Regions from separate parts of the Homo sapiens genome. Here region 1 is linked to region 2. Evidence: fine-mapped expression QTL. A gene starts in region 2. The other region holds a variant in brackets. All regions are shown on one strand. Distances are between the middles of the regions.

Region 1 (5,382 bases), 150 kb before region 2:
TCTTAAGGTTATTACTATTTTTGTTCTTCATCTACCTCTTTTACACAGAAAGAGATTCAGTAATTCAGTGAAGTCTCACAGCTAGGGAGGGAAGAGATGGAATGTGGAACCCATGTCTGTCTGACTCCAAAGCCCTTTAATTTTTATTAACTCACACTCATTAAGTGCTTAAGTTGTAGGGCAATGTACTAAGCTCATTTAACTCTCAAAGGCACATCTTTTATTTTTATTTACTATTTACCTATGAGGAAATTGAAACTTACACTATCATTAGACGAATGGTTAAATTATGGTAGATCCCTATTATGAATAATTATGTATCACTTCATAAGAATACAACTGATCTAGTGTAGCTTCATAAAAACGTCTACAAGCCACATCATTAACTTAAAAAAACTATGCTGCAGAATATGTTTTTACATTATATAATAAATTAAAACAGCCCATACAAACCTATATATTTATATGAGTGTATGCATGCGTATATACAGTTGATCTTGATCATTTACAGATTCCATATTTGTGAATTTGCCTGTTTGCTAAAATTCATGTGTAACCCCCAAACCAATACTTGTGGTATTTCTGTGGTCATTGCAGACATGTGCAAAGTGGCAAAATATTTGAGTTACCATATGCACACGTCCCCAGCTGAAGCTGAACTCTGTGATCTCTGCTGCTTTCTAGTTTCAGCTCTTACTATCCACAACAGCCCTTTCACCATCTGTTTGGTGCCACATTTTTGTGTTTTTGGTGGCTTCACTGTTTAAAATGGCCCCCAAATGTAGTGCCAAAGTGCTGTCTGGCATTCCTAAGTGCAAAAAGGCCTTATGGGGAAAAATATGCACATTAGATAAGCTTGGTTCAGGTATGAGTTAGAGTGATGTTGACCATGAACTTAATGTTAGTGAATCAACAATATATATTAAATGAGGAATCTTTAAACAGAAACACACATAATACGTGGTTATATATTAATCAGTAGATAAAATGTTGTGACCAGAGGCTTGTAGGAACCTAACTCTGTACTCTTTGAATAATGAGAACCAACTGCATCTATGTCTGTGTATATGGTTGTGTGTGTGTAAAGATGTATTACGTATAAGTGATTATACTTGAGGGTAAAATACAGAGATTGAGGAAAGTTGTTTAAGGAGAATTCTAAGCTTTATATGTAATCAATGTTTTTTTCTAAAAATAAATTAAAAAGGGGTGGGGATCTAGGAAACTCATCAACAGTACCACAACTACTTAAATGGCACTGCTAGGACAAAAAGGTGATGATATTGATTCTAAACCTCATGCTCCTAATCACTATGTTTATCTTACTTTATTTTCATAAATAAAGTAAAATGGAAAGAGGAAGTAACCATTTGAGCAGTGGAAACTGGTAAAGCTCAGTGAGAGGTAGCATATTTAGTGGTTTAGAAAAGGCGCTCTGAAGCCATACTGACAGGGTTTTAATCCTGGTTTGCCATTCACTAGCACTATGCCTGGGCAAGTTAGTTTAGCCTCTCTGTAACCTAGTTTCTTCATATACAAAAGGGGATCATACAGTAGCTACTTCATAGGGCTACTGTGGGGATAATCATGCGTTAAGACATGCAAAGTGCTTAGAAGAGCACTTGGCCCCACAGTAAGTGCTCAATAAATATTAATTAGCTATCAGCATATCACTAGTAGTATGACTGATGACAATGACTGCTCTAAAAAGAAAGTGACCTATTAGGAGTAATTTTTTGTTTTTAGAGATGGAGTCTTGCTACATTGCCCAGGCTGGATTCAAACTCCTGGGCTCAAGAGATTCTTCCATCTCACACCACCATGCCTGGCTAGGAATATACTTTTAACTTAACATCCTACACGTAGCTGGATTTTCCTACTTGTGGTAAAGGAGAAATAACATGAATTCTCATTTTTTTCCTAGCATACACATTATTAAATGTACACTTCTTATTTCTAACACTAAACTTTATATTTGGACTGTAAACTTCTAAAAAGAGTTGTGAGGACCAAAAAAGGACAAACCTGGGCAATACAGTGAGATCTCATCTCTACAAAAAATGTAAAAAAGGAAAAAAAAATTAGCTCAGCATGGTTGTGCATGCCAGCAGTCCCAGCTACTCGGGAGGCTGAGGCAGAAGGATTGCTTGAGCCCAGGAAGTCCAGGCTGCAGTGAGCCATGACTGCACCACTGCACTCCAGCCTAAGTATCAGAGCAAGATCCTGTCTGAATGAATGAATGAATAAATAAATAAATAGGCAACATGCTTTACAGACCAGATTTTTCCTACTTGTCACATACCCTGCTGAAAATAAGTTTAATTGCTCCAATTCATACTTTCTAGAAATAAGATATAGCTCTTAAACTTAGCAAAGTGACTGAGTTCAACCTTAAAAGTGCCTATAGCCACCAGAAGCTCTAAAATCAAGATCCTTGGAGATTTTCTCCGAGATCACTCATTTTTCCAAAACTAAGATAATGTCACCTTCCATCTTTCTGATTCTTTAAAATTTTACATACAATATTAATACTTTTATTTAATTCTCACTAAGGGATGAACATAAATTGGATTATTTCTGGAGGAAGTCATTCAGAAAGTTCGGCTGAGGTTTTTTTTTTTTTTTTTTTGCAGACCTTAGAAAATGAAATATTCATTTATACAATGAAAGGTACAGTAAATAACCCATTTTATTTCTATTCTAATTGGCACAAAGATAGAACAGTCTGACAGAAAATTAATAAGAACAAGAACCAGGAACTCTAAATAGGCATGAAACCTTATGAAAAGTACTTCTTGTTTATAAATACTAAATCAAATTTCTCATTATTAAAATTAGCATACAATCTGAATTTGCTCCTTATCCAAATTCACCAGTGTTACAAAGGTGACTTTTTTAAAAAAATAGAGACAAGATCCTGCTATGTTACTCTGGTTAATCTTGAACTCTCGGGCTCAAGATGATCATCTCACCTCGGCCTCCAAAAGTGTTGAGATTACAAGCATGAGTTATCGCACCTGGCTAGAAGATTAAATTTTTAAGGCAGTCAATAGTAATGGTACCCTGAATGGAGCATTTACTGCTTTACTGTGATAACTATCTTGCAGAATTATTTCATTTAATTCTCTCAGCAATTTGAGGTAAGTATTCCCATTACCTCCATTTTACAGATAAAGAAACTGATAATTAGAAAGTTTAAATAACTTGCTCAAGATCACTTTTAAAAGAGATCCTGACTCTCAACCACCATCTCACATTCCAACCTCCTAATCACTAGGCTATATAATACCTCCCCTCAGACAAGACAGGAAACAACATCCCACAGGAATTTCCCCTGCTTGTATTTTTCTCTTTTTGTGTTTGTATTGTTCTCAGTATATCT[G/A]AGGTTTGTTTAGAATCCAAATAAAACAAACTATTCCTGACAAAATATATTAGTTGGCAGTGAATAGGTCAGAGTCAAAAGAAAGGAGTTAAGCTGAAGGTAAAATATTTGCTGACACCACCCTAATTGATATATTTAAATTGCTGCCAAGAAATTCTTGTTCTAAAGGCTAAAAATAAGTCAGTTAGAGATAGTTTAGTGCTATGCACTAATAAATAAAATAATGGGCCTGGGCTGTGGTATCAGACATAAGGCACATAATCATTTAAACAGAATATATGCCAGACCCCCAATTCATGTATCAGTACATCTGTTTCAAATGCTAGAATTCAGAAGGGCATGAACTTTCCAAAATAATGTTTACACCTAGGTTCTCCAGCTCACAGACTGGGGATTTCTAGTAGCCTAAGGTCTTCAACTCGAGTGTATGAATAGTGGTAAATCATTATCTAAATTCTTAGGAGAACCTTCTGGAGTCACGTTTATAGCAGTCTGCTCAGTCTAGTCCTGAGGAATCCTACATATTCTGGAGTTAGAACTTAGGACTGGAGTTGCCTTGATCAGTCGAGAAGCCTCAATCACTCGCTATGGATAAAGGGCAAGACCTCAAGAACACCTCTATTTTTTCATCCCAGTGAAAAGCACCAGAATTATATATACTCTTTTTTCTTTGAGGTACAGTTCACTTTCAAGAGATAAAAGGTCAAATAATGAAGAAACTAAATTGATATCCCAAAGTGTTATTTTATTCCAAACATAAAAAATAGTATTTATATTACATACAATGGAAAATTTCAATACTATTGCTCAACTCTAAGGCAAATAATAACTGCACCAGCATCAATGGGATTAATATGCATTCACTGACCAGAGGAAAGCTGGGAATTTCCATACTTCAAGACGATTATCTTGGTAAAAAATGAAGCTATCATAAGTTATCCTGATGAAAATGCCCTTGAAAATTCACCCAAGTAAAGGTCTGGGTTCTAGAGACCACCCACTTTATTACAGTCTTGGTATTTTTTTTTTTTTTTTTTTTTGAGATGGAGTCTTCCTCTGTCGCCCAGGCTGGAGTGCAATGGCACGATCTTGGCTCACTGCAACCTCCCCCTCCTGGGTTCAAGCAATTCTGCCTCAGCCTCCCGAGTAGTTGGGATTACAGGCGTGAGCCACCGTGCCCGGCTGATTTATTTATTTATTTATTTATTTAAATTTATTATTATTATTATTTTTTGAGACGGAGTCTCACTCTGTCGCCCAGGCTGGAGTGCAGTGGCGCAATCTCGGCTCACTGCGAGCTCTGCCTCCTGGGTTACCGCCATTCTCCTGCCTCAGCCTCCTGAGTAGCTGGGACTACAGGCGCCCGCCACCACACCCTGCTAATTTTTTGGTATTTTTAGTAGAGATGGGGTTTCACTGTGTTAGCCAGGATGGTCTCGATCTCCTGACCTCGTGATCCTCCTGCCTCAGCCTCCCAAAGTGCTGGGATTACAGGCATGAGCCACCACGCCCGGCCTATTTTTTATTTTTAAAGACAGTCTTTCTCTCTGTCACCCAGGCTGGAGTGCAGTGGCATGATCTTGGCTGACTGCAGCCTCTACCTCCTGGGCTCAAGTGATCCTCCCACTTCAACCTCCTAGGTAGCTAGGACTATGGGCGCACACCACTACACCTGGCTAATTAAAAATTTTTTTTTGTAGAGACGAGGTCTTACTATGTTGCCCAGGCTTGGCTCAAACTCCTGGTGGGCTCAAACATCAGCATCCCAAAGTGCTACGATTATAGGTGTGAGCCACTGTGCCCGGCCTACAGTCTAGTTAATAATTCATTAATACTAAAAGAGAGTATTACTAAATTAAGACTAAAGTGTTTGAGAAAAACTTGAGTTTCAACCAGAAGTTATCTTGAACAATTAAGATAACAAAACTCCCATTTTCAGGAAAGAGATAATCTATCTTCTGTGCTCCCAAAACATTGCCTACCCCATCGCTATTCTCTTG
Region 2 (5,382 bases):
AACAATTGCTGCTAGAGGGGATTTTAGGGCAAAGGTAAGTAAAGTCAACCCCTTTCCTACATCTTCTGTCACACAGAGAAGTAATATCCTTGCTTGCTTATAGAAGTTCAGAGCCAAGAGTTTTATAATTTAGGCATGGCACACACCAACCCAGCAGACACAATATTCTCCAACTCCAGCTCCATAATACTCAACTATACTCCTTCAAAGAAAAAAGCTTAGATTACTCTTCTAATACTTTACTTTAAATACAAATTATACTGCATTTGTCAATAGAATGTCATAAGGATTAAACAAGATATAGTAAGTGGAAGTGTATGAAAGTTACGTATGTATTAAATACTATTTTATGTATGTACTTGAGAAAATTGCAGCAATGTATTTCTCCAATCTCAAATTGTTGCTTTCTAACTCCAAAACTAGTGTTCTGCCCACTGCAAACCAGGGGCCAGAGTAACAAGACACAAAAGATTAAAGTTGCCATCCCACTAAATCATTTCCTGCTTGAAATGTACTTTCTTAAAATGTCTATACAACAGATAACGCGGATGGTACTTGTGTTATCCAAGCCTCAGGCCTACATCAAAAATTTAAGGAGTGACGTCCTGGAAATACGCTAATTCAAGACCAGAAAAATGTCTCTACAGTTAGATCAAACAATGCCACACCAATTCCCAACTGTCCATAATCCTAGCCTGGGTATAGAAAAAAGCTGAATAACTTCAGATCCAAGAACAAGATAGCCCAGAATATCAGAGGTCAAGTACATAGGGCCACATTTCAACTCCAACTACATGGCTGGACTGTTTATCTGGCTCACTCTCAAATTCAAAGTTGGGTTTCAGCATCAATCAGGGATATGGCCATGAATAGGCTACGCAGGCCAGATCAAACCACAGGTCACTTGGCACCCTTCATTGGGCCAGATCCTACTGAATGCCAACCCTTGACCTGGTGAATAAAATGGGAGGCTGGCAGTCATGACAGATTCTTCCAGTTGCAGCTCCATTTTGAGATTCTTCATTGATATAACCAGTGAAATCAAATTTGGATAAATGTGAAGAATTTCTCAAATACAGATGGAAAACTTACTTGAGTATGCTTCACAGATCTAGTCACTTTTTTGTTTAGTAAAATACTCAGTAAAATATATTATTCATTAATTTGTTTCGTTCATAAAATCGTTTCGGTCCTGTGAGATGGTTAGAGGGACAACTAGCACTTTTCTTCAGGATCTGCACAGATCTTAACCCTTTACTAAGCCAGTTCCTCCACTAGCATGTAAAATTGGAGTTAGATCTGCTCCTCCTTTCAAAGATAAGCCAAAGATAAATAAGATACTATGTAAGAGTATTTTCAGCATTTCAGAAGGAATTTGCTAGAGAAAAAAACACCACCAACAAAAACCTAACAATGCAACTGAATTTTTTTAACACCTAAATCAGGGATCAAGACAAAGCCGGTGTTGAAAATCAAATTCATTAAAGCCAGATGTTTCTATGTTTGAGTTTCCGGACTGGGAAACGTGTCTGTGTCCATACAAACCCATCTTCTAATGAGCCGTAATACTGAAATTCTTCGGTAACGTCCCTCCTTCCCACTCCCTATCTTTTTCAGAACTTCCAGGCATTAAAGACAACGTCTGCCAATCCTACAAGTTCTCCCCGCCTGCTAGGATTCAGATGGATTCCACAACTTTTCAGCCTTCCGTGACTTTTAACACTACTCTAGAGCTAATCACTTTTAATGACCCCACTCTGGAATAGACACTCCTCGGCTTTACACTTTGTCCCGGCAGCAATCGACTGAACTGTCCCCCGACGCCGACCACCTCGGACGACCTCAGACATTCGGGGTAGTTTGCCCGCGGGCAGGGCCCCGCCAACTCCGATTCCTGCCCCAGAGCCGTCCGCCCCCCAAGCCCTCCTCAACCTCAACCCCCAAATCCCAAGCGCAGAACCGCTGGGCTTCCGGTTCTCCTGTGCGCGCCCCGGATCCGCCACACACCTCGCCCCTTCTCCCTGGGCTCGCTCTCCGGACCCTAACCCCTTCCCGAGCGAGGCCGAGCAACGCTCTCAGCAGCTGAACTAAGACTCCGGAGGCCGCACGTCCCCCTCAGCAGGCCCCGCCTGGGCCTCTCGGCTCGGCTGCCCTCCATTGCACCCCTGGCCCAACCGTGCTGACGCGGAAGGGTGGGGCAGCACGAGCTCAAGGCCCGGCACTTACTCGGGAAGGTAGGTGGAGGAAAAGGAGCTCCACTTGTGTAGCGCGTAGGGGAGAAGCCGGCACTCGGGCGCCGCAGCGACAGCTCCGCCAGCCGCCATCTTGTCAGCACCGTAGCGGCCGCCACCGACCGCTGGCAGCGAACGGGAGGAGGGGAGGGGGCGTGGCCTGCTCTTAAAGGGGCCGCCGCCCTCCCCGGCCGCCCGCGCTCCCCGCCCCGCATCGTTACCCGAGCCCAGCGCCGGGCCAATGTCCTATCTCAGGGTTTCCCACGTCGCTCGCTCCTTGACGGCTGACCGACACTGGGTCTGAGGTGTAAGCGCTTTCCAGGCCCTTCCCTGGGGCTTGGAGGGGAATGGCGCAAAGGACTTTTCTTACAAGCAGAGGTAAGGAAAAGCCGAGATGATTACGAACAGAAACACGTTGTAGTTATGGAGCAGGAAGGGAAAATAAGAAGACCAAGTTGGAAAAGGGACGCCTGTGCGCTTTTGGAAGCCACCGCCCTCGCCAGTTTATAAGTCCTTTACGGAAACAACACTGAAGGGAGCTGGAGGGCAGTAGCTAATGTGCTGTCCTCCTGGAGTGGTCCTGGTTTTAAATGTCTTGTCCCCGCCTTCCAGAGTCAGATGGAGACAGGAAAAGGAAATGGTCCCGTGTCCTCCTACCCTGTTTGGTTTGCAGTCTGTGATGCCCTTCATTGTAAACATTTCTTGTGAGCCGCATCCTACTAATCTTGTGGCATTGGTTTGCTCGGGAATGACGTTCACCCACAGACCTGAAAAGTCCTTACAGAGTTGGGAAGCTGCGTGTCATCATTTTTTCAGTTGGCAAATCTGCCCACTTTGAACTGACATAATTGTAGCCTAAAAGTTCAGAGAGAGAGTAGTTCAGGAAAAAGACTATTCCTTCTTCTTAGAGGGAACAGCAGCCCTGAAAACTATGTGGACATCATACCAGCTTCTTACAACAAAAGGTGCACTTGGTCTAAATTATCTGGCAGCTCTAGATAACGTTCTCATCAAGTACCTGTTTGTTGTAGTTATGCATATTTATTCCTTGGCTTAGCCACTGCAGTTACCAAAGAGTATGTCGCTTATTGTCTAAGAGGTTGGACTCCTGAAAGCCTGGACAGTGTCATCATCTTCACCTGAAGAGTGGAAAAATTCAAGCAAAGAGTTTCTCAGGAAATGACCAAGTGAGTCAAAACACCTCAATAATTGTATTCTCTTCCCGTTGTAATCATTAACCTGCCGAAATTCCCTCCAGTCCTTTCCTGACTTCCTGTTTCTATAGATGGAAATTTTAATAGTGGGCTCTACTAGGATATCAAATCAAAAAAGCCAGATAGAAAGGCCAGGCCCGGCACGGTGGCTCACACCTGTAATCCCAGCACGTTGGGAGGCTGAGGTGGGTGGATCACCTGAGGTCAGGAGTTCGAAACCAGCGTGGCCAACATGGTGAAACCCCGTCTCTACTAAAAATACAAAAGTTAGCTGCGTGTGGTGACATACACCTATAATCTCAGCTACTTGGGAGGCCGAGGCACAAGAATCACTTGAACCCAGGAGGCAGAGGTTGCAGTGAGCCAAGATCACACCACTGCACTCCAGCCTGGGCAACAGAGTGAAATTCTGTCTCAGAAAAACAAATAAAATACAATAAAATAAAAAATTACATGTGCTTTCTGTGTTGCAGCAGGTTGGAAAAGCATGTGTTCCTTAAGGGAATGCTGTAACTGTAGTGACTTGGGTCGGGAGCTGCCAGAGACAGTGGGAAAGGGCCAGAGAATGTTAGCCCCAGAGATGATATAGTGGTTATCTTTGAAGAAAATAGACACTTTAAAGGGGAGGAATTAACTCACTCCAATTCCTTTGGGCCCCAGATTTTATAATTCCACTTCTTACCTTAATGTAAGTCAAGTCCTTGTTCTTTTCCAGACATAGTTCCTGAGCAATCTTTTTTAAAAACACATGTTAATTAGTTCTTCTTAAGCTTAAATCCTTTTGGTGACTTTCAATACCCTTCTAAACTGTTTAACAGAGGCCCTTCATAACCTGCCTTGATTTTTCTCTCCAGCTTCCTCACCACCACCCCCCCCCCACTTTTCTCCTTTGCGCTTTTGACATCTGCCCACTAACTAGCACACTGAATTTGTTCCCATAGAGTCCTTGTTCTCTCTAGCCTCCGGAGCTTGCTCTAAGCCAGGCATGGAATATTCTTTCCCATTCTTTACCTGGCTAACTCCAGCTCATCCTGTAGACTGTTTGGTCCTGGAAATTTTTTTGGTTTTTTTTTTTTGAGACAGAATCTCACTCTGACTCTGTCACCCAGGATGGAGTGCAGTCACATGAACATGACTCACTGCAGCCTTGACCTCCTGGGTTTAAAGGATCATGCTGCCTCAGCCTCCCATGTAGGTGGGACCACAGGCAGACATCACCACACCAAGCTACTTTTTAAATTTTTTTGTAGACACAGGGTTTCACTCTGTTGCCCAGGCTGGTCTTGAACTCCTGGGCTCAAGCGATCCTCCTGCCTCGGCCTGGCCTCCCAAAGTGCTGGGATTACAGGTATGAGCCACTGCGTCTGGCCGAAAATCTTTCTTCAACACCTGCTCTGGGATTAGGTGACAGTTTTCTTCATTTTTTTTTTCCTATGCAAGCTAACACAGGATAGGTAACATTTTTTACATTTCTCTTAGCACTCTAAGTTTCCCTCTTTATCTTAGCACACATCACAATATATTTTAATTTTCTCTTTTTTCCCCTTTCTTTCTCTCTAAATGATAGCTCCCATGAAGATAAGAGTCATACATATCTTGTTCACAGTTGTATCCTCAGTCCTGTTGATGTGTCTAGCAAATAAAGATGTTCAGTAAATATTTATCAAAGAGTGAATGAATAATGCTAAAAGAGAACTTTAATTAGAGACTTCTGAGTTGCAAAGGAAAAAAAAAATGCCAGCACTTCTCAGACTACAAACGTGTATCCCTGAGGTATAATTGCTACTCAGAAGGTAAAGACCCAGGATAGCATGGCTTTCCTGCATCACAAATTTTATAAATGGTAAAATAATTTAAAGCATTCCTATGTTAACATACAGACAGCTATATTATGATACCAAGACGAAAATTTGTTTAAATGTTAAGAAAAGAACTTT

What was found. PIP is the estimated chance that this variant, and not a neighbour inherited with it, causes the effect. A credible set is the group of variants that fine-mapping cannot tell apart.
Region 1: its variant is the best candidate, but not a certain one, in a credible set for the expression of MKLN1 in whole blood (INTERVAL, PIP 0.84).

What each region holds. Positions count from the first base shown.
Region 1 is chr7:131,479,061-131,484,442 of GRCh38, reverse strand. All of the region lies in intron 17 of MKLN1 (muskelin 1), which reads right to left. Among named protein-coding and RNA genes, the nearest start is that of PODXL, 75 kb to the left of the region's middle. The variant G/A (reference allele first, on the strand shown) is at 3,383.
Region 2 is chr7:131,324,842-131,330,223 of GRCh38, reverse strand. It overlaps MKLN1 (muskelin 1), which reads right to left and starts at 2,348. Exons shown (of 18, transcript NM_013255.5): 1 at 2,227-2,348. The coding sequence starts at 2,324. It overlaps MKLN1-AS (MKLN1 antisense RNA), which reads left to right and starts at 2,445. Exons shown (of 6, transcript NR_125364.1): 1 at 2,445-2,609; 2 at 3,289-3,418. RefSeq lists enhancers at 1,430-2,006, 2,013-2,312, 2,007-2,583 and a silencer at 2,363-2,522.